4 separate regions of the Homo sapiens genome follow, and all the other regions are linked to region 1. The links come from fine-mapping of genetic effects on gene expression. A gene starts in region 1. Each other region holds a variant in brackets. All regions are shown on one strand. Distances are from middle to middle.

Evidence for each region.
Region 2: its variant is fine-mapped to the expression of IRF2BPL in whole blood (TOPMed, PIP above 0.99).
Region 3: its variant is fine-mapped to the expression of IRF2BPL in whole blood (TOPMed, PIP above 0.99).
Region 4: its variant is fine-mapped to the expression of IRF2BPL in whole blood (TOPMed, PIP above 0.99).

What each region holds. Positions count from the first base shown.
Region 1 is chr14:77,026,623-77,032,273 of GRCh38, forward strand. IRF2BPL (interferon regulatory factor 2 binding protein like) reads right to left here and starts at 2,086. Exons shown (of 1, transcript NM_024496.4): 1 at 1-2,086. The coding sequence starts at 1,170. It overlaps LOC107984638 (a long non-coding RNA gene), which reads left to right and starts at 846. Exons shown (of 4, transcript NR_190002.1): 1 at 846-1,189; 2 at 2,666-2,858; 3 at 3,039-3,114; 4 at 3,205-4,950. It overlaps LOC105370579 (a long non-coding RNA gene), which reads right to left. Exons shown (of 2, transcript NR_169510.1): 2 at 4,937-5,651. RefSeq lists silencers at 1,216-1,715, 1,836-2,045, 2,246-2,375 and an enhancer at 3,139-3,659.
Region 2 is chr14:76,959,483-76,965,761 of GRCh38, forward strand. It overlaps LINC01629 (long intergenic non-protein coding RNA 1629), which reads left to right and starts at 156. Exons shown (of 3, transcript NR_133913.1): 1 at 156-271; 2 at 2,849-3,125; 3 at 6,133-6,279. RefSeq lists enhancers at 1-46, 1,129-1,663, 1,664-2,199, 1,984-2,193, 2,244-2,293 and 2 more. The variant G/A (reference allele first, on the strand shown) is at 2,332.
Region 3 is chr14:77,045,798-77,053,355 of GRCh38, forward strand. All of the region lies in intron 1 of LINC02288 (long intergenic non-protein coding RNA 2288), which reads left to right. Among named protein-coding and RNA genes, the nearest start is that of LINC02288, 8.5 kb to the left of the region's middle. RefSeq lists an enhancer at 7,229-7,558. The variant G/C (reference allele first, on the strand shown) is at 3,959.
Region 4 is chr14:77,073,220-77,080,777 of GRCh38, forward strand. It overlaps LINC02289 (long intergenic non-protein coding RNA 2289), which reads right to left and starts at 2,972. Exons shown (of 3, transcript NR_110553.1): 1 at 2,886-2,972. RefSeq lists a silencer at 2,827-3,121. The variant G/A (reference allele first, on the strand shown) is at 3,185.

The DNA.
Region 1 (5,651 bases):
AACCTCGTAGGGCGTGCAGCCTGCCAGCGTGAGCAGCGTGTCGCGGACCATCTTGGGCTTGCTGGCCCACTCCTCGGCGCGGTTGCGCAGGCTCTCGCTCAGCTCGGCCAGGGCCTCGGCGTTGCGCTGCTTCTCCTTCAACTCGCGCTCCTGGTCTGTGCTCGACACCGAGCCGGGCCTCTTACCACCAGCACCCACGCCCACCTCTGCCACCGACGAAGAGGTCGAAGACGACGCGGAGGACGACGTGGCCGATACACCCGGGGTACCCCCGAGACAAGCGGGGCCCCCAGGAGCCCCTGGGGGAGCAGGCGTCGGGGGCCCACGGCTGCCCAGGGCGTGGGGAGGGGGTGGGGGGAGTACCGCAGCGCTGGCCGGGCCGTTAAGCAGCGTCTGCGGTAGCAGGTTGGGGGGCACGGTGAGCTGGGGGCCTCCGCCACCCCCCGGGTTGGGCAGCCCCGTAACCAGCCCACCGTGCGTTCCACGCCGAGACGCCACCGACGCCGCCGCTGAAGAAGAATTGGGGCTCTGACGGTTCAGCTCTGGGGGTCCCTCCTCTGGTGTTGGTTTGGGGAAGCCGTTTGGGCCCCCCAGGCCGTTGGGCAGTCGCGCGGTGTGGCTGCTGCTTCCCAGGCTCACCGGCGGTGGCGGGTACTCGAAGCGGCTGCGCTGTTCCACCGCAGCGGCGGCGGCGGCGGCGGCGGCGGCGGCAGCGCTTAGGCCGTAGCGCTCCAGGCCAGACGGGGCCGCCAGCACCGCAGGCTTGCTGGAACCATCAACGTGGTTGAGCTGTTGTTGCTGCTGCTGCTGCTGCTGCTGCTGCTGCTGTTGCTGCTGCTGCTGCTGCTGTTGCTGTTGCTGTTGCGCGGCGGCGGCGGCGGCCGCCGCTGCTGCCGCCGCCGCCGCCGCTTCCTTAGCCGACAGGGCCACTGTCTTGACCCCGACGGGCGGCGGCGGCCCGGGGGAGCGGCCGTCCTGGAAGCAGCCGTGCGCCCGCTTCAGCTGGCGCGCTGTCTCGATCACGAATTCGATGCGATCAGCGCCCTCGTAGTTGACGCAACCGCGGCATACGGGTTCCGAGAAGTCCCAGATCATGGCCCAGGGCATGCGGGGCAGGTCGCACAGGTAGCAAGATTGTCTCCGGGACGAGGACACCTGCGCCGCCGACATGATGCCTGCCCTGGGGAAGGTAGGCCCCCGCCCGGGCTGTCTCCGCGGCGCCTTCTCCTCCGGGAGGACTGGCCGGCTGGGGAGGGAGTCCGACTGCGGGGGAGGGAGGAGGGGGGGCGAGAAAGTTCTGCCCCAGGGGCTGGAGGGAACGCGAGTCTCCACCGCCGGCGCAGCGCCTCGCCGTGGGGGCTCCACCGCCCGGGCAGCGGACGGGTTCAGCCCTCTCTTCGCCCCCACCTCCTACTGCGGTTGACTCGTCGCGAGGGGAGCTCAGGCGCCTTCTTCCTGGTGCTGCAGACTTGGGCTGGAAGCTCCCGGCCCGAGGGGAGGGGGCGAGGGTGCCCGGTGGTGGCCGCCGTTGCCTCTTGGCCCCCTCCCCGGAGTGGCTGGTGCGTGGAAGCTCGAAAGGGGCTGTCTCTTCCTCTCCCCGGGGACCCCCCTACGAGCTGCGTCCTCTCCCCGACGGGCCCCCTGGGGCGAGGGCCAGAGGGTTCAGTGCCACCCGGTGCCCGGGTCCAATCTTGCTGAAGCCGCTGCTTCCCCGGAGGACCGGGGGAGGGGGTGGCAGCCGAGAAAGGACCTTCTCCCCTCCGCAGCGTCGGCCGTTCTGCTGGCGGCGACTGGGTTTGCACCCCGGAGGGAGCCGCCGCGGCCACTGCTTCCAGGACGCACGAGAGCAGAGGAGAGGAGTGCACGCACGCAGGCTCCCGCCGCCCCCAGGCCTGGCCGGCGCCCGGGCCGCCGCGGCTGGCGGCGCTCACGTTGGCTGCAGGGCGCTCGCGCGGCGCCTCGGCCCGGGTCGCATCCCTTCCCGCTCGTGCTCACGCTCGCCCGGAATGTGGGGTTGTGATTGTTACTCTACGTTCCGGAGGCGCGTCTCGGCGCTCCTGCTCCGGCTGCGGCTCGCGCTGTCCCCGGCTTGGCCGCGCGGGATGCCGCCCGGGCGGAGCGCTGACGTCACCGCCATGCTCTGCACCAGTTCTTCCCCCTCCCCTTTACACTTCCTCTGTGGAGCCCACTTGTTGCTCAGGCAAGGCGCATGCGCGGCAGGACGCCCAGATTCCTCCCAGCCGGCCCCTCCTCCGCGCCTCCGCCCTCCCCTCCCCCCTCGCCGTGTGTGTACAACAGCTGAGGCCCGGCGAGCTAATGCTGGAAGTCCAGAGCTGGGGGTGGAAATTAAACAGACGATGACCTTTCCTTTCCCTGCCGGGCATTCCCAAGTAAAAACGCATTTAAGAACCACTAGCGTCGTTTCCGATCCCTGCTCCCCACCCCACCCCCAAGCCTCGGCAGTGAATTTAAATGTCCTGTTTCAGGATTTTTCGCCGTGAATTTCGTATAAGGTATTAACCATTTCATCTGCGGTTGAACCTTATCCCCCCCGGCATGGATGTTAAATTCATCGCCACCACTGATGCCGAAGCACCTGCAAAATTAGCTGTTTTCCAATCTTCCAGAAATTGTCTTTTCTATTTGTTTTTGTGCCCTGATCTAGGAACCCGGGCTTCAACGATAGAGCTAAATGAATTCAGAGTGCGCTACCCTTCCCCCCAGCCGCACTTTAAAAATTTTGGCTGAACGTCTGAAGAAGATACGAGCACCCCGAGGCCTTTAAGGAAAACAGGCAACTGGCTGCGCACAGCTGCAGTTCAGGGCAGGGAGGGGGAGGGGCCGGAGAGGCCAAACAGGTGAGTGTTTTTTCTAGAGTTTGATTTTTAAAAGGTGGAGGCAGCATTTAATAATACTGATACATTTTTGTAAAGCACAGCCGCAGTTTTCAAAGTTCTTTCTCAGGCGCTGTGATCTCACTCCATGTTGCCCCAGAAGGCGGAACAAGGCCGTGATTTTTTTTTTTTTTTTTTTTTAAGACGGAGTCTTGCTCTGTCGCCCAGGCTGGAGTGCAAAATGGCGCGATCTCGGCTCACTGCAACCTCTGCCTCGCAGGTTCAAGCGATTCTTCCGCCTCAGCCTCCCAAGTAGCTGTGATTACCGGCACCCGCCATCAGGCCCAGCTAATTTTTTGTATTTTTGTAGAGACATGGTTTCACCATGTTAGCCAGCTGGTCTTGAACTCCTGACCTCAGGTGATCCTCCCGCCTCGGCCTTCCAAAGTGCTGGGATTACAAGCATGAACCACCACGCCCGGCCAAGGCCGTGATTTCTTCTGCCTTACAAGATCACTGCTCATCAGTATTGCTTATGGCACGATGGATATGTTGGTCATAGCTCTAGTTGGGGCATTTCTATTGATTATTCTAATTATTGGGTTTGCTTTTTTTTTTTTTTTTATTTCATGAAAACTGAGATAATCCCAGGGAAGGCTGGAGAAGGGAAAGCAATATAATGGGATTTCGGATTCTGAAGTGTGGCCCACCAGATTGAAATTTCCTCTCCATCACTAACTGGCTCTCCACCCTTAAGCTAGTTACCCACAAAATCTCTCTTTTCCATGGAAAAGAGAATGGAATGATAGCTCCCAGGTTGTTAGGGTTGTTTGAGATTTCAACTTCGGTTTTTTGTTTTTTTGAGATAGGATCTTGTTCTGTTGCCCAGGCTGGAGTGCAGTGGCACACTCGCGGCTGGCAGCAGCCTGACCTCCCAGGCTCAAGTAATCCTCCCACCTCAGCCTCCCTAGTAGCTGGGACTACAGGCATGTGCCATTACACCTGGCCAATTTTTTTGTATTTTTGGAAAGGGATGGGGTTTTGCCGTGTTGCCCAGGCTGGTCTCAAACTCCTGGGCCCAAGTGATGCACCCACCTTGGCCTCCCAAAGTGTTGGGATTACAGGCATGAGCCACCTCACCCGGCCTCAATTTGTTTCTTGTCATAAGAAGAGATAACGCTTACTTAGACTTGCCGTGGGACCTTAGTAAACTAGGTGGCTTTACTTGCATCACCCTTAATATTATCTACATTATTAAGGGGATATTATCTATAGTATTTTGTTGTTGTTTTGAGACAGAGTCCACTCTGTCACCCAGGCTGGAGTACAGTGACGCAATCTCAGCTCACTGCAACCTCCACCTCCCAGGTTCAAGCAATTCTCCTGCCTCAGTCTCCCAAGTACCTGGGGATACAGGCGCCCGCCACCACACCCAGCTCATTTTTGTATTTTTAGTAGAGACGGACTTTCACCATGTTGGCCAGGCTGGTCTCGAACTCCTGACCTCAGGTGATCCTCCCGCCTCAGCCTCCCAAAGTGCTGGGATTACAGGCATGACCCACCGTGACCGGCCTATTACAGTATTAAACCCTTAATATTATCTACAGGGTAGATTCTTTTACCTCCATTTTACAAACCAGGAAAGTAAAGAGGCTATATAACTTGCCTACAGCCATTAGTGATGGGGCTGGGATTTGAATCCAGTAAATCTGATTTGAGGTGTCTTTGACAAGCTCAGGCTTGCAGAGGTGGTTTGGGGTGCTCAAAATTCCCATCAGCCCCAGTTGATTTGGTGTTACATACAATCTTACGTAAGTACTATGCCAATACACCTTCATAACCAACCCCCAGCCTCCCCTTCCAAGCGCATTTGTACCACTGAGTTCTATATACAGAAGTTGTAGATCTGTCACTACCAGACTGTAACTTAAATACACCATACAGAATGGAGAGCAGTGTTGGACTCACAGTTAGTGTTAGTTATTATTAGTATTGATACTAGTGTTGGTACTATTGCTGGTTGACATGTGACAGTACTTAGTAAACTGCATAAATTGTGAGGATCACTATTATCACTCTTATTACTAGTAATTGCAATAAAGTTCAGTGGAAGCAACAAGAGATACTTACTTTTATTTTGACACTTGACTTCCAGAGCCTGTTCCCCTATCCAACCCTCCCCAGAGCCCCAATCTCCCACTCATTCTGGGGCCCCTGAGTGCAAAGGAAAGGCGAGTTTTTAAGGACAGAAGAGGAGGAGGAGCCCTAGGGAGCCCCTCTTTCATCTCAAAGCAGCCAGATTTCTGTTTTTGCAAAACAGTGAGCTCACTGTGCACTCTAGAGCAATAATAAACTTTCTCTGGCCTGCTGGCACTTTGCAGTGATTCCTCTGCAAAGAGTTGCTTGGGGAGCATTGCCTCACTCTCCCAGACTTCAGCCCTCCCCACACTACCGCTACCCTGGAGTGAGTCAAAACATAGGGGTGGGAAATGGTTTGACATCCCCGCCAGCCTGGGGCTCCTTAGCTTTGGCTCGGTTGGGTGACCCATTTCTTTACATTAATATTTATTCAGCCCTTCCCTTTATTAAACCAAAAATATTAGGGAAATAGCAACTTAGCCACAACCCTCCAGCCAGGCTGCTAGAGAAAGCAAGTTGGATTCTATGTCATGGTGTTATGTTTGGTATGCACACACATATGTCTCCATCTCCCTGTCTGTCTCTGTCTTCACTGTTACTAAAGGAGATATATATACACACATACATGCTGGGGTGCCTTCAGACACACTGAGTTAGAAATCAACGTGTATTTAAACA
Region 2 (6,279 bases), 67 kb before region 1:
GGGGCGGGCAGTGGGTGGCTGCAGCCTGTCCTTACATGGGGCTAAAGGGGCCCAGCCACTTAGTGACTCACCCACTTGCCCAGCCAGCTGAAACCCTGGCCTCACCCTTCCCTTCTGCTACCTACAAAAGCCCCCTGACATAGCACTCTTGTCATACTGAGACTAAGGTAGAAAAAGACACTTCCAAAGGGTGTCAATGACAAGAGAGAAATAGACATAGAGTGGTCACTTCATTTACCAACCCTGGAACCGCAGACCTCTGGGCTTCCTGGTATGTGATTTCAGTTTTACCCCTCACTGTTTAAATTGCTTGAGTTATGTATTTTGTTATTGATTTATTTATTTATTTATTTATTTATTTTGAGACAGCGTCTCTCTCTGTCGCCCAGGCTGGAGTGCAGTGGTGCGATCTCGGCTCACTGCAACCTCCGCCTCGCGGGTTCAAGCGATTCTCCTGCCTCGGCCTCTCGAGTAGCTGGGATTACAGGCATGCACCACTACACCTGGCTAATTTTGTACTTTTAGTAGAGATGGGGTTTCGCCATGTTGGTCAGGCTGGTCTCAAACTCCTGACATCAGGTGATCCGCCTGCCTCGGCCTCCCAAAGTACTGGCATTACAGATGTGAGCCGCCTCACCCGGCTTGTATTTTGTTCTTGCAGACGAAAGCTGCCCACCAAATATGAACAGATAGGAACCTCGTGATCTTTTGGGGCTGTCATCCTTCTCTCAGTCTGCCAGTAACTGGGATCCTGGCATTTATCCTGGAGGTCCCTGAAGGTCCAAGAGGGAACAGAGGAAATCTGATTGGCACAGGTGTGGTGACGTGAAGCAGGTGGTGGCTTTTAGGACTGGAGGTCTGGTGTAGGGTGTATTAGTGAGGAGAACATGGAGGGAGGAACTCACCAGGAAAATTGCAGCCAATTTCCAGCGGTCAGGAATTGAAGATCCAGCAGAGTACGGAATCAGCTCCTCCAGAGTAGTGGGTTTTTCCAGTTGTAGGTTGAGATCCATTCGTGGGTCATGAAATCAAGTTAAGGGATCATAGTCATACACAGAATTTTTTTGTTTGTTTGTTTTTGAGACAGTCTCATTCTGTCCAGGCTAGAGTCTCTAGTCTCTGCCCAGGCTAGAGTGCAGTTTCACAGTCTTGGCTCACTGACCTCCACCTCCTGGGTTCAAGTGATTCTCCAGCCTCAGCCTCTCAAGTAGTTGGCGTTACAGGCACCTGCCACCACATCTGGCTAATTTTTTGTATTTTTAGTAGAGACGGGGTTTTGCCATGTTGGCCAGGCTGGTCTCGAACTCCTGGCCTCAAGTGATCCGCATGCCTTGGCCTCCCAGAGTGCTGGAATTACAGGCGTGAGCCACCACGCCCAGCCAGAATTTTTTTTAAAAAAAGGAAATAGAAGAGAATGTAAGAATAGAAGTGCAGGTTAAAAGGAACGTTTAATTTCATAAAGTTTTTGCCTCAGGGTAGTATGCTTGTCTGAGTAATGGGTTGAGATAGGAACGCATTTCTTAGTGCAGGTCTTGATTTCAAATGTTCGAAAGCCACTGCTCTGGAAAATAGAGGAGTGGAGACCAAAGTGTGCCCTTTGTGTATGTGTCGGCAGTGGGGTGGGGGTGGGGGTCTCTGTCCTAGCATTTGGTTGCAGCACCCCAGGAGTGCCTGTAGGGGAACCACTGACCTCCACTTTTCCATACGCTTCACACCTTCACACCGAAATGTGCTCCATTCCCTTTGCTATTTTTTTTTCTTTTCTTTTTTTTTTTTTTAGACAGAGTCTAGCTCTGTCGCCCAGGCTGAAGTGCAGTGGCACGATCTCGGCTCACTACAACCTCTGCCTCCTGGGTTCGAGTGATTCTCCTGTCTCAGCTTCCTGAGTAGCTGAGACTATGCCTGGCTAACTTTTGCAGTTTTAGTAGAGACGGGGTTTCACCATGTTGGCCAGGCTGGTCTCAAACTCCTGACCTTAGGTGACCTGCCCACTTCAGCCTCCCAAAGTGCTGGGATTACAGGCGTGAGCCACCTCACCCAGCCTGCTATTTTCATTAGGAGGAAAAGAGGGATGGTAGCTTTCATCCAGATCCCCCATCTTCAGAATGTTTTCAACTTTCCCCAGAACCTCCACAGCGTTAAGTCAGTCAAAATCCTTGGATGGACCCTTCCAAGTAGCAAGGGCCACCCTGTCCCCTTTCCCCTGGCCATGAGACCACGCAGAGCGCAGGGGCCGGAGTCAGAAAGGGCAGTTTGGCCCCTGGGCAGTCTCCTGAGAGTCTTTCTCCTCCCAGTTTCTACTATTTGGCGGAACCTTGAATGCAGGGGGGC[G/A]GGACAGAGAAAAAACTAGAAAGCTCGACTTCTGCCTGCGGGGCCGGAAGCCCCGCTGCGGCCCCAGCCCGCGGTTAGCCCCTGTTTGTCATTTTGCAAATCTGGTCAACCCACCTCCGGTGAAAACTCCCAACCTCACCCCAGGGGGCAATGACTAATTACAAAACACATTTTCTCTCGTTTTCGTCAAGCTCGCTGTCCCGCCCACACATCCCCCGCCTATCCCGGCACCCGTCGGCTTCCTCAGGAGCCTCACTCAACTGTGTTGAATGAACTCTTGGCCTGGTCCCTCCCCCAGAGACTTCACACCGTGGGGTTCTTTCCTCCCTGCTCAGCTTTACTTTCACTTTCTAGTCACTCTCACTTCTCTGTCAGCTTCAGCTTCTCACCCTAGAGCTTGAGCCCTGGTCCTTTCTTAAGGCAGGGGCTATTGCCCAAGTCCTGGGCTGCACCCAATTCGTCAAAAGTCTCGATTCATCAATAGTCAAAAATATTTATCAAATGCATTCTGTTCCAGGCTCTAGGAATGCAGTGCAAGACAGGCAAGGTTCTTGCTCATACAGAGCTTCTAGAAACCTGGGATACAGAGATGCAATCAAGTGATAAAACACATGGATGAAGGCTCTGCCATTGAACACATGGTTCTTGACAAGCCCACAGAGAGGCACAGCTAAGCCAGCCCTGGGGAGCCAGGGAGGGTTCCCTGGAGGGAGAGAAGCTGGATCCAGGTCTGAAAGATGACTTGAAGTCAGCCATGAGCAAGGAAGAGATTTTCCAGGCCAAGCGAACAGCCTGTGAGTGGTGCCATTTGGGTGAGGCTGGCTGGAGCTCACAGGGTGGGAGGGAGTGCAGGGAGCTGGGGTCCCCAAAGGTGGAAAGAAGCCAGACCCAAAAGGACTTTGAAATTCTGCTCAGCCATTTGGATTTTGTCCTGAGGGTGATGGAGATTTGTGAGCCCCAAATATCTGAGACAGGTCCCAGTCCCTTTAGAAAGTTTATTTTTGCCAAGGGTAAGGACAAGCCCATGACACAGCCTTAGGAGGTCCTGAAGACAGGTGCGCAAGGTGGTCAAGGTACAGCTTGCTTTTATACATTTTAGGGAGATATAATACATCAATCAATATATGTAAGATTTACATGGGTTCTGGCCGGGCGCGGTGGCTCATGCCTGTAATCCCAGCACTTTGGGAGGCCAAGGCAGGAGGATCACCTGAGGTCGGGAGTTCAAGACCAGCCTGACCAACATGGAGAAACCATCTCTACTAAAAATACAAAAAAATTAGCTGGGTGTGGTGGTGCATGCCTGTAATCTCAGCTATTCGGGAGGCTGAGGCAGGAGAATCATTTGAACCCGGGAGGCAGAGGTTGCAGTGAGCCAAGATCACGCCATTGCACTCCAGCCTGGGCAACAAGAGCGAAACTCCATCTCAAAGAAAAAAAAAAAAAGATTTACATGGGTTCGATCTGGAAGGACGGGACAACTCGAAGTGGGGGGCTTCCAGGTCATAGTTAGATTTGAACATAAACTGATTGGCAATTGGTTGAAAGAGTTATTGTCAGCAGAAAGGAATCTCTGAGCTATGATAAGGGGTTGTGGAGACCTAGGTTTTATCATGCAGTTGAAGCCTCCAGTAGCAGGCTTTCGAGAGAATGGACTGTAAATGTTTCTTATCAGACATAAGGTTTGTGTTGATGTTGATGTTAGGGGTATAATGAGGCTTGGCTTCCCTTCATGGCCTGAACCAGTCTTTCAGGTTAAATTTTAGACTGCCCTGGCTGAGGAGGAAGTCCATTCAGATGGCTGGTGGCTGGGGGGTGAGGGGTGTGGGGTGTTCCATACACAGCCATGGAAGGGCCTCAAGCCAGAGAGACATAATAAATGGAAGTGGGAGGCAAGACTGGACAAAGAGAGACCCGTCAAGAGTTTGTTACAGGCCGGGTGTGGTGGCTCACACTTGTAATCCCAGAACTTTGGGAGGCCAAGGCAGGCGGATCACGAGGTCAAGAGATCGAGACCATCCTGGCCAACGTGGTGAAACCCCGTCTCTACAAAAATTAGCTGGGCATGGTGGCACGCGCCTATAGTCCCAGCTACTAGGGAGGCTGAGGCAGGAGAATCGCTTGAACCCAGGAGGCAGAGGTTGCAGTTAGCTGAGAGGGTTCCACTGCACTCCAGTCTGGCGACAGAGCCACACTCCGTCTAAAAAAAAAAAGAAAAAAAAAGAGTTTGGTTGTTGCAGTGGGAAGATGTGAATGGACATGAGAGATATATTTAGGAGACAGGATTGTGGATATGGAGGTTAGAGGAAAGGAAGAAGGGAAGGATGACTCCAGGTTTCCTGCACAAACCATGGTCCCCCCTGTTCCCTACAGGAGGAAGAGTTGGAAGAAGAAGAGCGATAGATAGAGAGAGGAGACAACAAGGTCCCTCTGGGACAGGCTGAATTCCAGATGTCTGTGGGACACTAGGCCATTGGCTATGGTGGTCTGAGACCCTAAACAGGGGCCTGGGATAGGGTTTTAGTCTGGTCACCATGTACACACGGAGGCAGGGTATAGAGTGAGAAGATGGGATGATTGAAAGGCCTGGGACACGAGCCAGGGAAACGCAGGATAGAAATGACTGGCAGAGGCTGGGCACGGTGGCTTACGCCTGTAATCCCCACACTTTGGGAGGCCGAGGTGGGTGGATCACTTGAGGCCAGGAGTTCAAGACCAGGCTGGCCAACGTGGAGAAACCCCATCTCTACTAAAATACAAAAAATTAGCGGGTCATGGTGGCATGCACCTGTAATCCCAGCTACTCAGGAGGCTGAGGCAAGAGAATCTCTTGAATCCTGGAGGCAGAGCTTGCAGTGAGCTGATATCACGACACTGCACTCCAACCTGAGCGACAGACCAAGACTCTGTCTCAAAAGAAAAAAAAAAAAAAGAGGTGACTGACAGAGAATGACCCCAGCAAAGGACCAGAGAAGGAGCAGTCCACGGAGGACCACTTGGAGAGGGTGGGTGGGGGGAAACCCAGCTCACAGGAGAAGGTGTGGCCGATGGTGTGGCATGCTGCTGAAAGGCCAGGTAGGTGAGAACAGTGGTGAGCACTGTTTCAGTGGTGGTGGTGGCGGAGGGAGAGTGACAAAAAGCATTTGGTTCTGAGCCTGGGAGTAGCAGGCTGGGGGAGGAGCCTAAGGCTAGGCCGGCTCTCAGGAGCAGTGTGGGCCCCAAATATCCTCTTCTGTGATCTTTTTACCTTTTGGCAAAGTGTTATTTAAATGTATTTAAATCTTTTAAGGAAATATTTCTAATTTTGTGCCAAAATAAAGCACTGTAAATCCTAGCCACTGTTCCTTTGCTTCCCCAGGGGCCGCAGTGACTGTGTCCAGTCCTTCCTCACCCCGCTGCAGAGTCAGTCCAGGAGGCCTTTACCCACAGCACTGCCACCTCCCTCCACGACCCCTGTCTTTCTCTTCCCCAGATTAAACGCTCCCACTTCTCTCCATTCTTCTTTCTCCACCCCCAGGCCCATTTCTGCCTCGGTTGCCTGCCTCCAACCACAATCCAGTTTTTTGGCTCCCAGAGACAGACATGCCCAGATCTGAACACCACCCACCTGGGTATGTTCTGCCAGTGTGCAAGGTGGGGCCCTCCAGGCCCTCTCCTCCCCTCCCTTTTTCTAGATGCCATTTCCTGCTAAAGCCACCTCTCCCATGGCTATAAACTACCTTCAATCAGGGCACGAACTCTAGAGCACAAGAGAACCTGAGATTCTTTAAAACATTCTAGTTTAATGTCCTCGTTTTACAGATAAAGAAAATGGGTACGGCCAAGACCATAGACCTAGTGATTGTCAGATGAACAATTAGACCCACAGAACCATCCAAGCTACAGAGGACGCATTCTGCCTTCCCTTGGATCCTGTGGTTTGAGGATGGAGGTCTAGGACCGTGGCAG
Region 3 (7,558 bases), 20 kb after region 1:
CAAGGGTGGTGCCAGCCTTCAGCCTGTGCCAGCGCAGATGCTTTTGAGCCCAGAAAACACACACAGAACTGCATGCACGCATATATCAGAAACATCTGTCTATACACAAAACCAGAAAGCTACTGGGGAGGTGTGCATAGATGAGGTACAAGAGCAAGGGGGACCTGCAGGACCCATCACTGATAGATGTGGCTTTTTTTTTTTTTTTTGAAACAGGGTGTTGCTCTGTCGCCCAAGCTGGAGTGCAGTGGCATGATCTGGCTCACTGCAATCTCCACCTCCTGGGCTTAAGTGATACTCCTGTTTCAGCCTCCCGAGTAGTTGGGATTACAGGCGCACGCCACCATGCCTGGCTAATTTTTGTATTTTTAGTAAAGATGGGGTTTCACCATTGGGCCAGGCTGGTCTCAAACTTCTGACCTCAGGTGATCTGCTCACCTTGGTCTCCCAAAGTACTGGGATTACAGGCGTGAGCCATTGCACCTGGCCAGATGTGACTCTTGAAAGCAAAGGCAGCTTATATTTCCTGGAAATACACTTCATTCAGGTTGGTTCACGGGCAAAGGAGACAGAAGTTGCTCCTTAAGGAGAATGCCCTGGGCGAGGGCAGAGCTGCCAGCCACTCTGCAATGGTAGGGCTGCTGCACCCACTGTGGCCAGGAGAACCTCAGGAGAGGTGAAACAATCAGAGGGTTGTGGTGATAGAAACTAGAGGACACAGCTCCCAGCTCTCCTCGCCCCGTTAGTTTGAAGACTGTTACCAGCAGCACTGTCGTGGTTCTGGCAGTAAAATCTCCTTCCTTTCTACCCAGGGACATACCGACTCCGGAAAGCATCTTTCCTACAGCAGGTTGGGAAGGTGCTTAACAGCCCAGACTTTAGGATATTAATAGCAATGATGATAGGCAAGGCTGACATTTATTGGGCACCTCTTATGTGTTGGACATTGTGCTGGCTGTTTCAATGCATTATCTCTTCTAATCCACACTTAATGAAGTGGATTCAGTTATCGTCCCCATTTTATAGATGAAGCAACTGAAACTCAGAAAGGTTAAATAACGTTATCTTAGGACACACAGCTAGTAAGTGTTGGCTGAAGTTTGAACTCAGGGTTGCCTGACTCTAGAGGCCTTATCAGACAGATCTGGGTTTGATTCTTGACTCATGAGACTTTGTGACCTGTGCCAAGTTTCTGCACCTCCAGGCTTCCTCATCTGTTTTCATTGTTAGACACATCAAATATTGGCAATTTCATGTAATTTAGCCTAAACCTGCCTTACAACATTGCTTTAAGGCAGGGTGTGGTGGCTCACGCCTGTAATCCTAGCACTTTGGGAGGCTAAGGAGGGTGGATCACGAGGTCAGGAGTTTGAGACCAGCCTGACCAACACGGTGAAACCCCGTCTCTACTAAAAATACAAAAATTAGCTGGGCGTGGTGGTGCGCACCTGTAATTTCAGCCTCTCAGGAGGCTGAAGCAGGAGAATCGCTTGAACCCAGGTGACAGAGGTTGCAGTGAGCCGAGATCGCACCACTGCACTCCAGCCTGGGCGACCGAGCGAGACTCCATCTCAAAAAAATAAAAAATAAAAATAAATAAATAAAAATTTTCCAGGCGCCTTACAGGATCAAGACAAACTCCTTAGCTTGGAACACAAGGCCTCTGGGAAATTGCCTCCAATTCCTCTTTTTGCCTCTTCCTTTTTCTTAATTTCTAACCACATTGAATTCCTCTTGTTCCTTAAACACAATATGAACTTTGAAGCCCCGTGCCTTTACGGGGCTCTTTTCTCTACCTACAAAGAATGTTTTCTCCCTCTTGTTTTTTGAGCAAACTTCTATGCATCCTTCAAAACCCAGCTCAGTTTTTACCTTTCCTGTGAAAATAGTCTCTGGCATTTCCCAGCTCTGTGCTTCAATTGCAATCTGCATTTATCACAAAGAGTTGTAGTTGGCTGGGCGTGGTGGCTCACGCCTGTAATCCTAGCACTTTGGGAGGCTGAGGCAGATGGATCACCTGAGGTCAAGAGTTCGAGACCAGCCTGGCCGACATGGTGAAACCCCGTCTCTACTAAAAATACAAAAATTAGCCGGGTGTGGGGCGCCTGTAATTCCAGCTACTCGGGAGGCAGAGGCAGGAGAATCGCTTGAACCCCGGGGCGGAGGTTGCAGTGAGCTGAGATCGCACTATTTCACCCCAGCCTGGGAGAAAGAGTGAGATTCTGTCTCAAAAAAAAAAAAAAAAAAAAAGTTGTAGTTATCTGTTCACACTGCCTCACTGGGGACTCAATGAAGTTCAATGCTGGGGCCATTCTATCCCGAATGCCTCTAGAAGCCCCTAAATAAAGGCTAGTCAATTAAACATGCCTAAATATACATTTTTATGACGTAATTTTATTGTCACCAAAATAATATGGAAGTGTATGTATGTATGTACTATTTATACCCTTCCTGTCCCAGCAAAATCTTGGAGCATTCTACTCAGAAGTAGAGATATAATAGTGCTTAGTATATCATGCAGTAGAGTTGGGGCTTTGGAATCAAGTATTTCTGGGTTGAAATCGTAACTTGGTCTCTTACTGTGCCATTAAGTCATTACTTTATCTCAGCCTCAGTTTTCCCACCTGTAAAATGAAGATAACATTAATTACCCATGAGGCAGACACTGTTGATTGCTAAAAAGTAGTCACTCCTGCTTTCTTCCTTAGTGCCCTGAATTTGTTTCAGGAGTCCCACACCCCTCAGTTCCACGTGCCTTGGGGGGAAATCCCAATTAGTCTGAGCTAATCTTAGCATCCCATCCCCCTTGCTAACACTTTGGGGATGGATCTGTGACCGAGTTCTGGTGAATAAGACATGGGAGTTGGGGGCTTGTTTTAGGAAATATTTTCATATTTTCTCAATCTTTTTTTTTTTTTCTTTTTTTTTTTTTTTGAGACGGAGTCTTGCTCTGCCGCCCAGGCTGGAGTGCAGTGGCGCGATCTCCGCTCACTGCAAGCACTGCCTCCCGGGTTCACGCGGTTCTCCTGCCTCAGCCTCCCGAGTAGCTGGGACGACAGGCGCCCGCCACCACGCCCGGCTAATTTTTTGTATTTTTAGTAGAGACGGTGTTTCGCCGTGTTAGCCAGGATGGTCTCGATCTGCTGACCTCGTGATCCGCCCGCTTCGGCCTCCCAAAGTGCTGGGATTACAGGCGTGAGCCACCGCGCCTGGCCATATTTTCTCAATCTTAAAACATGAGAGAGAGAGAAACAATTGTCTTTCTTTCTTTTTTTTTTTTTTTTTTTTTTTTTTTTTTTGAGACACAGTCTCACTCTGTCACCCAGGCTGGAGTGAAGTGGCGGGATCTCAGCTCACTGCAACCTCCACCTCTGGGGCTCAAGCGATTCTTCTGCCTCAGCCTCCCAAGTAGCTGGGATTACAGGCGCCTGCCACCATGCCCAGCTAATTTTTGTATTTTTAGTAGAGACAGGGTTTTACCATGTTGGCCAGGCTGGTCTCGAATTCCCGACCTCAGGTAATCCACCCACCTCGGCCTCCCAAAATGGTGGGATTACAGGCATGAGCCACCGCGCCCAGCCAAACAATTGTCTTTCTGTAGCTGTATGTGTGTCTGCAGTGATGATGGCTGGGGCTACAGCAGCCATCTTGCTATGATGAAGGCAGCCATTCAGAGAACTAAGTCAACACACTAAAGATGATAGAATGGAGGCCGGGTGCGGTGGCTCACGCCTGTAATCCCAGCACTTTGGGAGGCCGAGGTGGGCAGATCACGAGGTCAGGATATCGAGACCATCCTGGCTAACATGGTGAAACCCCGTCTCTACTAAAAATACAAAAAATTAGCCGGGCATGGTGGCGGGCCCCTGTAGTCCCAGCTGAGGCCGAGGCAGGAGAATGGCGTGAACCCGGAAGGCGGAGCTTGCAGTGAGCGGAGATCGCGCTACTGCACTCCAAC[G/C]TAGGCAACAGAGCGAGACTCCGTCTCAAAAAAAAAAAAAAAAAAAAAAAAAAAAAAGAGAGATGATAGAATGGAAGGAAATGTGGAAAGAACATTAGTCTGGTGGCACAGTTCAGCAGCTGGATTACTCTGCCCTGGAGCCACCCACATCTGGACTATTTCCATCAATTCCTTCATTGTTCAGTGAGGGACCCCTGGCTCGATCCAGTGGAACCAAGGTTTCTGTGACTTGCAGCCAAAAGCATCCTAACAATCAACTTCGCAGGGTTGCTGTGATGACTAAATAAAGTAAAATTGGCCAGGCGAGGTAGCTCATGCCTATAATCCCAGCACTTTGGGAGGCTGAGGCGGGTGGATCACCTGAGGTCGGGAGTTCTAGGCCAGCCTGGCCAACATGGTGAAACCCCGTCTCTACTAAAAATATAAAAATTAGCTGGGCATGCTGATGGGCACCAGTAATCCCAGCTACTTGGGAGGCTGAGGCAGGAGAATCACTTGAACCTGGGAGGCAGAGGTTGCAGTGAGCAGAGACCACGCCATTGCACTCCAGCCTGGGCAACAAGAGGAAAACTCTGTCTAAAAAAAAAAAAAAAAAAATTGAAAAAGTGCCTGACAGGGTCTGGCACATAGTAGGTTCTCAAAGATTGAAGACTCTCCTGCTGAGATGTTCTGGGATGAATGCACGAATGACTATGAAGAGTGGTCCAGAGAACATGGCAGATGGTAATAAAGGTTAGAGCAGTTCAGAAGTGGGTGGGTGCTAGAACGATGAAGATGACAATGACGATGAAATTCAAACATTATGTTAGTAAATGTCCTAATGGAACTTCTTGGGGCTGTAACAATGGTTCTCCTTTTTACTTCTAATGCCTTTTCTTACCCGGCTCAGAATTAGACATTGCATATACAGGCTTTTCTAATTGTAAGTGGCCACGCTTGTACAATTAGGGTGGTCCTTAATTACCCTGGGGCATGGAAGCCCTGCTACAGGATAAAGGCAAGAGTGTACTTTTTTTTTTTTTTTTTTTTTTTTGAGACAGAGTCTTGCTCTGTCACTCAGGCTGGAGTGTAGTGGCACGATCTCTGCTCACTGCAACTTCCACCTCCCAGGCTCAAGCGATGTTGTGCCTCAGACTCCCAAGTATCTGGGATTACAGGCGTGTGACACCATCCGGCTAATTTTTGTATTTTTAGTAGAGACGAGATTTTGCTATGTTGGCCAGGCTGGTCTCGAACTCCTGGCCTCAAGTGATCCACCCTCCTCATCCTCCCAAAGTGCTGGGATTACAGGAATGAACCACTGAGCCCAGACTTTAGCGTATAATTTGTAGCTCCAGGAGGAGCCAAGATTTGAAAGCAGAACCATCATACCCACACAACGTAAAGCAGGGCCTTTGACTTGCCAAAAGCACACCAAGTCCGTCCTCCCTGAGAGACCCAGAGAAGCCCAGCAGACCTCTCCAGCTCGGGTGGGGCTGCCTCTGGGGGCTGCCTGGCTTTTGGCCAGCTGACCAGGCCATGGAGTGTTGCTCCCTGCCAGCCCCACAGCCCTTTCGAACCTCGTTCCAGGAGAGCTCAGCCACACCAGTGTCTGCCAGACTCATGTCCGTCCAGCTGTGTGGGCGGCCCTGGCAGCAGGGGACAGGGCAGGGTTTGTGCAAGGACATTGTGGCACCCACAGCAGGGCGTGGGAGAGGCGGTGGCTCACTTCAGGGACGAGTCAGGAAGGAACGTGGAAGAGATGGGGAGCAGAAGCCACAAACTCAAGGCAGCCTCAGCTGCCTTCTCAAAGGCCGCCTTCACCTTAGAAGCTTGTTCCAGGGTCTCCTTTCCTGCTTGCCCCTCCCCTGTTGAGCTGGGTTCAGCACAGCCCTGCTTCGATGCTCAATTCTTTTTTTTTTTTTTTTTTTTTTTTGGCAACAGAGTTTCGCTCTTTCGCCCAGGCTGGAGTGAAGTGGCGTGATCTCATCTCACTGCAACCTCTGCCTCCCGGGTTCAAGTGATTCTCCTGCCTCAGCCTCCCAAGTAGCTGGGACTACAGGCATGCACCACCACGCCCGGCTAATTTTATAATTTTAGTAGAGACGGGGTTTCACCATGTTGGCCAGGCTGGTCTCAAACTCCCGACCTCAGGTGATCCACCCACCTCAGCCTCCCAAAGTGCTGGGATTACAGGCATAAGTCACCGCGCCTGGCCACTGACGCTCAAGTCTGTTCACCAAATCTTTATTGAGAATACTTTATGTAAGATGCCATATTCCTCCTGGCTAATGGTGGGGTGGGGTGAGAGATACCGAGAGCAAGATCAGAGTAGAAAGGACCTCAGAATGGCCTTTAAACTTGGGTGCCTCAGAACTCCAAAGCCCAAGTATTTAAGAAAGAAAAAAAGACTGCTGCAGTTTAATCTAGGGCAGGGATAGGGTCCTGTCCACTCTGCCTTGAGTCAGAGACTCCATGGATAACATCCAAACAACCCTGACCCAGACCAGGGGGGGATATAGAAGCCCAGAGAGGTGAAATGACCTCCCTCAGTCACACAGCAAGTTGGAGGCCCACTCAGGTTCAAAGTCAAGCCCAGTGCCTCGTCCATTGTACTGTCCTACCCCTTGGCACTTGTTTCAGAGATCAGCTGCGGAGATGGGGCGAGTCACCCAGGAACAGACAGACACACTTGCTACAGACTAAAGAGAACAAGTGGTTCTAACTCAGGATGGCAAAGGCTCCCCGGAAGAGGGGCAGGGAGCCGGGCCTAGGGCAGCATGGGCAGGATTGCTCATGGCACATGGCAGGGGTGGGGAGAGAGGTGGATGTGAGGAAGGAGGCAATTCCAGGCCTCAGAGAACATGATCTGCTAGCGCCTGAAGAAAGACTGGCAATCCAGAGAGCTGGGTTCCAGCCCTGGCTCTGCCGTGACAAGCCCCTGGGCCAGGGGCCTCCCCTTTGGGCCAGTTTCCTTGCATGTAAAATGGCAAAGAGGGTGGGCTAGTTGGCCCTACTGTGACATGCTAGGAAGCCTTCTCTCCTCCCACCACCACCAACACCACCCAGGACACTCCCCAGTGTGTGCCAGGTGTCTGGAATTGACACCAGGAGGGAGTGTCCCTGGCTGCCCTGTGGCACAGCATGGAGCTGGCAGGCCTGCCCAAGGTGTCTGCCCAGAGCTCTGGGAAACAGTGACAAACCATGAGGAGGCAGGAACTGGAGAAGAACCCGGGCAGGAGCCATTCCTCTTCTGAGAAGTGGTCTTTCCCATCTGGCCCTCTCCAGAAGCTCAGGCCTCTGCCAGGACTTGTTAGGGTCCCACCACCCCAAAGAGGCGAGGCCTCAAGGGTAGAGGGGTACGAGTCCCTGAACAACCCCAAGCCTCAGTATTCTCATTTGTAAAATGGGTAAAAATAGCACTTTAGTAGTCTCATTTGTAAAATTGATATCAGTACCTCAGATGATGAAATGAGATAATGCGTGTCAAGGGCCTAGCACAGCGCCTGGTGTAGGAGCCACACGTCCCAGAGGGCTGCCTGCTGGGGAAGACCGCATAATTTGAAGCCTCCTGACATAAAACAGGCTGGTTGAGGGAGGGCCCTTTCTGTCTAATACACC
Region 4 (7,558 bases), 48 kb after region 1:
CTTCTCCTCTTCAGTGCCTCAGTGATGTCTCTCTTTTCCCTTCCCTGCAAAGCAGTGCTGTCCTTCTTGCCCATAGTGCTCTACTAGCAGAGACCATAATGACCACTGGTTAAGTGATTAAGAACAGGGCTGTTCATTTCTTTTTTTTCTTTTTTTGAGATGGAATTTCACTCTTGTTGCCCAGGCTGGAGTGCAATGGTGTAATCTTGGCTTACCACAACCTCCGCCTCTCAGGTTCAAGTGATTCTCCTGCCTCAGCCTCCCAAGTAGCTGGGATTACAGGCATGCACCACCACACCCAGCTAATTTTGTATTTTTTTTTTTTTTAGTAGAGACGGGGTTTCTCCATGTTGGTCAGACTGGTCTCAAATTCTTGACCTCAGGTGATCCACCTGCCTCGGCCTCCCAAAAGACTGTTCATTTCTATAGCCCCAGTCTCTAATATGGCATCTGACACATGGAAAGTGCTCACTGGTGAAAGAGTAAGTGGGACAACTCACTATAAATGGCTGTGGGGCCCATTGCTGGAAATATCCCCAGAGAGAATAGCACTGGGGCCCCTAACCATTCCAAGTAATGTTTAAGAATTATAATATGGAACTCTTTCTGTTCCAAGTTACACTGAGGCCCCAATATGACAGATATCAGTATTAGTTATCTATTGCTACATAACAGATTACCTCAAAATTTAGTAGCTTAAAACAATAATAAACATTTATTATCTCAGTTTCTCTTGATGAGGAATTGGGGAGTGGCTTAGCTGGTGTTCTGGCTTAGGGTTTGTCATGAGGTTACAGTCAAAATGTCAAGTAGGGATGCAGTCATTTGAAGGCTTGACTGGGGCCGTATGATCTGCATCTAAGATGGCACGCTCACATGGCCAGCAAGATGGTGCTGGCTACTGGCAGGAGGCCTCAGTTCCTTGCCATGTGGACCTCTCCATGGACCTCCCTGAGTAGCTTCATGACATGGCAGCTGACTTCTCCCAGAATGAGTGGTTCAAGAGAGCAGGGAGGAGGTCACAATGTCTCTTATGACTATATTAGATCCACAGGGCTGCTGTAACAAAGTACCACAAGCAAGATAACTTAACAGAAATTTACTCTTTCACAGTTCTGGGGGCCAGAAGTCTGAAACCACATTGTCAGCAGGGTCAGAACGGTGGCACATGGAAGGTGCTCATTGGTGAAACAATGAGTGGGAAAGAATAAATCATTCCTTGCCTCTTCCAACTTCTGACGGCCGCAGATGTTTCTTGGCTTGTGGCTGTATCATTCCAATCTCTGTCTCCATCTTCACACGGCCTTCTCCCTTGTGTCTGTCTACTCTTTGTCTCTCTCTCCTTATGAGAACACCAGTCATTGGATGTAGGGCCCACTCTAGTCAAGAACAACCCTTGATTACAACTGCGAAGACTATTTCCAGAAAAGGTCACATTTATAGGCCCTGGGGGTTAGGGCTGCAACATATCTTCTGGGGGACATCATTAAACACACAACAATGACCTAGCCTCAGAAGATGCATGCCATCAGCTCTGCAATAGCAAGTGGCTACAAGGGTCGGCCCTGTTCACGGAGGGAGGAGACACAATGATGTGAATACCAGGAGATGGGGACAATGAGGGGCCATTGTGGAAGCAGGCTACCACAATATCATCAGATAGCAAACTGAACATGAGACAGACTCCCATATGTAGTATTTACAAAGGAAATAATGGGGAACCAGTTGCATAGCACTCAGGGCCCTCAGCCTACCAACAATATAGAGTGTGGAGAATGGGGAGAGTTTGGAAATAGAAACTTCCAGAAAGGGCAAAGCCATGCTGTAAGCTACCCCACCAAGGAGTTAGGGGCCCTACTGCTTTCAACTCAAGCCTAGTGATGGGGGCTTCCATGCAGCCACTTGGAGCTGTGGGCCCCCATGGGACTGTGCCAGGAGGGACTGCATTAGGATGAGTGAAGGGGCTGTGTGAGTTCTTCCCATGGGCCACATGTGGATCAGATGGACCATGGCAGGAGAGAGGGCCAAGGTGGGGGTCATTTTAAGTCCTGTAGGGCCTCTGAGAAGGGCAAAGGGATGTCAGCAGAAAGAAGTTGGAAGAGGATGCTGGATTTCTAGGGGTTGAAGATGGAGTCATAGCTGTACCTGAAATGGAGGTGCAGAACAGGGAACTTCAGGAGAAAACCTTAGAGATGGGAACTTTTTTTTTTTTTTTTTTTAAGACAGGGTCTCACTCTGTTGCCCAAGCTGGAGTCCAGTGGCCCAAACTCGGCTCACAGCAACCTCTACCTCCTGGGTTCAAGCAATCCTCCTGCCTCAGCCTCCCAAGTAGCTGGGACTACAGGCGTGCAGCACCACCCCCAGATACTTTTTGTATTTTTGGTAGAGATGAGGTTTAGCCATGTTGCTCGGGCTGGTCTAGTACTCCTGGGCTCCAGTGATCTGCCCGCCTCCGCCTTCCAAAGTGCTGGGATTATAGGCGTGAGCCACCAAGCCTGGCTGAGATGGGAACTTCTGAAGAACACAGGGAACCCTCCAGAAAGAGCTTTCACCATCTGCCACACCCAGAGAGCTGGCAATCATACAGTCAAGTAAAAACTGCCCTATTCCCCTGCTCCCCATCCGCTTCCCTGCATCCTCACCCACCACCTCCACTTAGACTCTGAAAGCAACCAGCAAGTGGGGAGAGGGGTATTCGGGAGAGAATAGACAAAAGCCACCATGCCCAGTCCCTGGCAGCTGGCAGCCCCCAACTAAGGCCTTAACTAGGGCAGGAGGAAGAAGATTTCTCTTTGAAGAAAAATGCAAGAGTCATTTAATATCTTTGGGTGGCTGCTTTAAATCTCTAAGTCGATACTGGATTTCGTGACATAAAATGTACATACCTAAGCATGACCAGAAGAGCCTCGGGGTCAGCTGAGCTTTCAGCCAGGGGAAGGGGAAATGCTTCCCTTGCTTTAGCTCAAATGCACAGTGAGAGCCAAAGCAAATTGAGTTACATGTTGGTTCCACCCCACATTCAAGGGATTGGTTTCACCGAATCCCCGCCTCCACAGGGAATTGGGTCTTATATTTCTTACCCCCAACCCTCCCCGCCATGGCAGAGCCACAAGGAGGTTCCTGAAGAAAATCCCTTCTCGGCTTTTGTGCAGAATTGAAGAATGTTTACTATGTTTTCCTTCCT[G/A]TCTCTCTGGAAATGACGCAAAGAATAACAACAACAAAAAAGAACTCCTTGTCCCGTGCAAAACACCCGCCCCTCCCCCGCCCCTGACCTCCTAACTCTTCACCCTGTGTTGGCCTGACTTCACCCTGGGATGGGGAAACTTCCTGGGAGGATATAGCTGACCTGGGAACAAAACTTGTTTTTTTGAAAGCTTTGTGCAACGTCAACTAAGTTGGGGGAGGGGTCTGGGCAAGGAAAGAAGAAAGCAAAGGGGGGCAGGGTGGGAACAGTTCTGCTAAACCAAACAATTCCCCAGGGATGATGGAGCTGTGGTGACCTGATAAGTCCTTTAAATGTCTTATTAATTACTGGGGGAAAAATTGGCTACTTCTGAGTCTCCCCTCTCTCACTGTCCTTGCACAAGCTTGGGACTAGCTCTGTCCTTTTTTAAGAGTCAGTCTTGGGCCGGGCATAGTGGCTCACTCCTGTAATCCCAGCACTTTGGGAGGCTAAGGCAGGAGGATCCCTTGAGGCCAGGAGCTTGAGACCAGCCTGGGCAACATAGCGAGACCTCATCCCTACAAATAATTTTTAAAAATTAGCTTGGAGTGTTGGTGTGTGTCTGTGGTCCCTGCTACTCAGGAGACTGAGGCAGGAGGATTACTTAAGCCCAGGCAGTGGAGGCAGCAGTGAGCTGTGATTGCACTATTGCACTCCAGCCTGGGTGATAGAGCAAGAACCTATCTCAAAAAAAAAAAAAAAAAAAAAAGAGTCCAGCTTTTTAAAGAAGGGTGCCCCTTGGTGGAAGACAACAGGACAAGGCAGGAGCTGGGGCTGCGGAGAGTCCGGGGTCTGCAGAGCATGGGGCTGCCATCAGAGACCCACCAGGCAGGTTCCTGCTCCTAGCAAGGACCCGGCTGAGCAGAGATGAGGGTGTGGAGGTGAACCTGGAAAACATGCAGAGGATTCTAGACACATTCCACAGTCAGAGCCTCTGGAAAGCCCACCTTCTCCATCACAGAGGCTTTGGGGAATAGACATCCTGTTTCTCTGTATTATTACAGCACAAAGCATTTATCATGCTGACAATGACAGTGACATTTCAGGACCTAAACAAGCTTAGTTGTTCACAGCTTACAGGAGAGAAGGCTCCTAACACTCTTTATTTATTTATTTATTTGTTTGTTTATTTATTTTGTTTTTGTTTTTTTTTGTTTTGAGACAGAGTTTCGCTCTGTCGCCCAGGCAGACAGAGTGCAGTGGCAAGATCTCGGCTCACTGCAAGTTCCGCTTCCAGGGTTCACGCCATTCTCCTGCCCAGCCTCCCGAGTAGCTGGGACTACAGGTGCCTGCCACGGCGCCTGGCTAATTTTTTGTATTTTTAGTAGAGGCGGGGTTTCACCGTGTTAGCCAGGATAGTCTCCATCTCCTGACATCTTGATCCACCCACCTCGGCCTCCCAGAGTGCTGGGATTACAGGCGTGAGCCACCGCGCCCGGCCTATTTATTTGTTTTTTGAGACAGAGCCTTGCTCTGTCATCCAGGCTGGAGTGCAATGGTGTGATCTCGGCTTATTGCAACTTCCACCTCCCAGGTTCAAGCAATTCTCCTGCCTCAGCCTCCCGAGTAGTCGGGACTACAGGTGTGCACTACCACAGCAGGCTATTTTTTTTTTTTTTTTTTAGTAGAGACAGAGTTTCTCCACGTTGGCCAGGCTGGTCTCGAACTCCTGACCTCAGACAATCTGCCTGCCACATGATTAGGTCCTGAGGGCTCTCCCCTCATGAATGGGATTAAGACTTTTATAAAAGAGGCCTGAAGGAGCTTGTTGACCCCTTCTGCCATGCAAGGACACAGAGGAGGCACCATGTATGAGGAATGAGCCCTCACAAGACACTGAATCTGCTGGCGCCTTGACCTTGGACTTTCCAGTCTCCAGAACTGTGAATGATAAATTTCCATTGTTTATAAATTACCCAGTCTAAGGTATTTTGTTATAGCAGCCAAAACCATCTACAGAGCACTAATGACAGTTTGGGCTGGATTATTCTTCGTTGTCGGGGCTGCCCTGTACATTGTAGGATGTTTTGGAATATCCCTGGCCTCTATCCACAAGATGCCAGTAGCGCCTCCCCCAACTCCATGACAAAACTGTCCCTTGGGGGCAAAATTACCCCTGGTTGAGAATCACGGCCAAGTAGCAGTCCCCATTCAGTGACCAGACAGCTAAGGAGATCCAGAGTGTAGTGCTGGGCCACACAGATGCTAAGGGAATTTATACTTCAGGAAAAAAAAAAAAAAGGCCAAGTCTATGTGGCCTTCGCATCAGTTATTACTCTCTCGGTTGCACTAAGTGACAGAAAATTCACCTCTAAATGACTTTAAATTGGGATGCTGTTTCATATAACTAAGCAGACCAGGGATTAGGCATTGTGCTGGTTCAGGCCAAGCTTGATCCAGGGATTCAAACAATATCACCAAGATTTGGCTTTATCTTTATCCCCGATGCTGCTCTTCTCCATAGCGTTTTCTTGTTGGGATAAGATGGCTGCCAGCAATCCAGTCCCACCTCTTCCTATGCCTGAGACTTGTGAGGAAAAAACATGAAGTGCTTTTCTTTTTGCAGTCCCAGCAAAAGTCTCATTCCACTGAACTGGCTCTGACTTGAACATGAATCCATCATCAAGCAAGACACCATGGCTGGGGAATGTGATGGCCTAAGTGGCCAGGTTGTAGTCACATAACCACTTCTGGATCTGGGAGTGGAGTCAACTCTGTCTGTGGGACATCAAGAATGGGGAAGTGGGGTTCCCAAGAGGAAAGTAGCATACTACCACTGGGAGACAGGTGAAAGGATTCTTGATGACAAAAAGCAATACATAGCTACCACAGTCTTTTTTTTCTTTTCTTTTCTTTTCTTTTTTTTTTTTTTTTTTGAGGCAGGGTCTCACTCTGTCGCTCAGGCTGGAGTGTAGTGTGAGATCTCAGCTCACTGCAGCCTCAACCTCCTAGGCTCAAAGAATCCTCCCTCTTCAGCCTCCAGAGTAGCTAGAATTATAAGTGTGCACCACCACACCCAGCTACTATTTGTATTTTTAGTAGAGATGGAGTCTCACCATGTTGCCCAGGCTGATCGCGAACTCCTGAGTTCAAGTGATCTGCCCACCTCGGCCTCCTGAAGTGCTAGGATTATAGGTGTGAGCCACCACACCTGACCTACCAAAGTCTTTATACCAAAAAGAAGCTCACTCTTAAATTGATTAAGGTGAGAGCTAAAAGTTTAAAGAAGACTCTGCCGAGTGGTAGTATAATACCTGTGCCATGATTGTCCAAATCAACCTCCAGGTGACAAACAAGAACTCTTTCAGGTATCTCTAAGATAAACTAGCATCTGAGATGGTTCATTCAGATGGATCTCTAAAATGGAGACTGCCAGAGTTTTACCAAGATTTTTCCTCCCATTTTTTCATAGTAACATATATGTAGTTGGGTCCATAGTTGCTCAGCTGGAGATAGCATTTCCCAATTTTCCTTGCAGTTCAAATCGTAGTACATGTGAGTCCCAGCCCTGGAGTGAGTAGTCACTTGGGGGACACCTTGCAGTTAGGTGTGACCACATGACTAAGTTTGCACTATATGGGCAGAAGAGATGATTACACCTAGGCCTTAAGATAGTGGGAATGCGGCAGGCTGAGACATGAGAATTGCTTGAACCCAGGAGGCGGAGGTTGCAGTGAGCTGAGATCATGCCACTGCACTCCAGCCTGGGTGATAGAGTGAGACTCAAAAAAAAAAAAAAAGATAGTGGGCATGTCTCATCCTTACTCTTTCCCCTTCCCTTGAACCAGAACATGATCTTGCCTGAGACCTAGCTTTGCCATGCTAGTAAAAATGATGCCCTAAGAGATGACAGGAAAATGCAAAGAACCTGGATCCCTGAATGACCTTGTGGAGCAGAGTATCCTGACAATCTGCAATGAATACCTCAAGTGAGAAAGAAATAAATTTGCCTTTTCTGAGAGACTAAATGTTGCATTACATCTATTCTAAGATCCATGTTTTTAATGTATTCTAATATCTTTGAAATCCATGGCACTGTTGGCCAGGTAGTGGTCAAGACCACCCTTAAGGTACGTCAGACCCCAGGAAAATGTTTTTTCTGGAACTCCTCCTGTCTATATAAACAAATTAATCCTAGCACTTTGGGGGGCTGAGGCAGAAGGATTGTTTGAGCCCAGGAGTTTGAGGATGCAGTAAGCCATGTTCATACCACTGCACTCCAGCCTGGGCATCAGAGCAAGACCCTGTCTCAAAAAAATAAAAATAATAAAAATAAACAAATTAGGCCCGGTGTGGTGGCTCATACCTCTAATCCCAGTACTTTGGGAGGCCGAG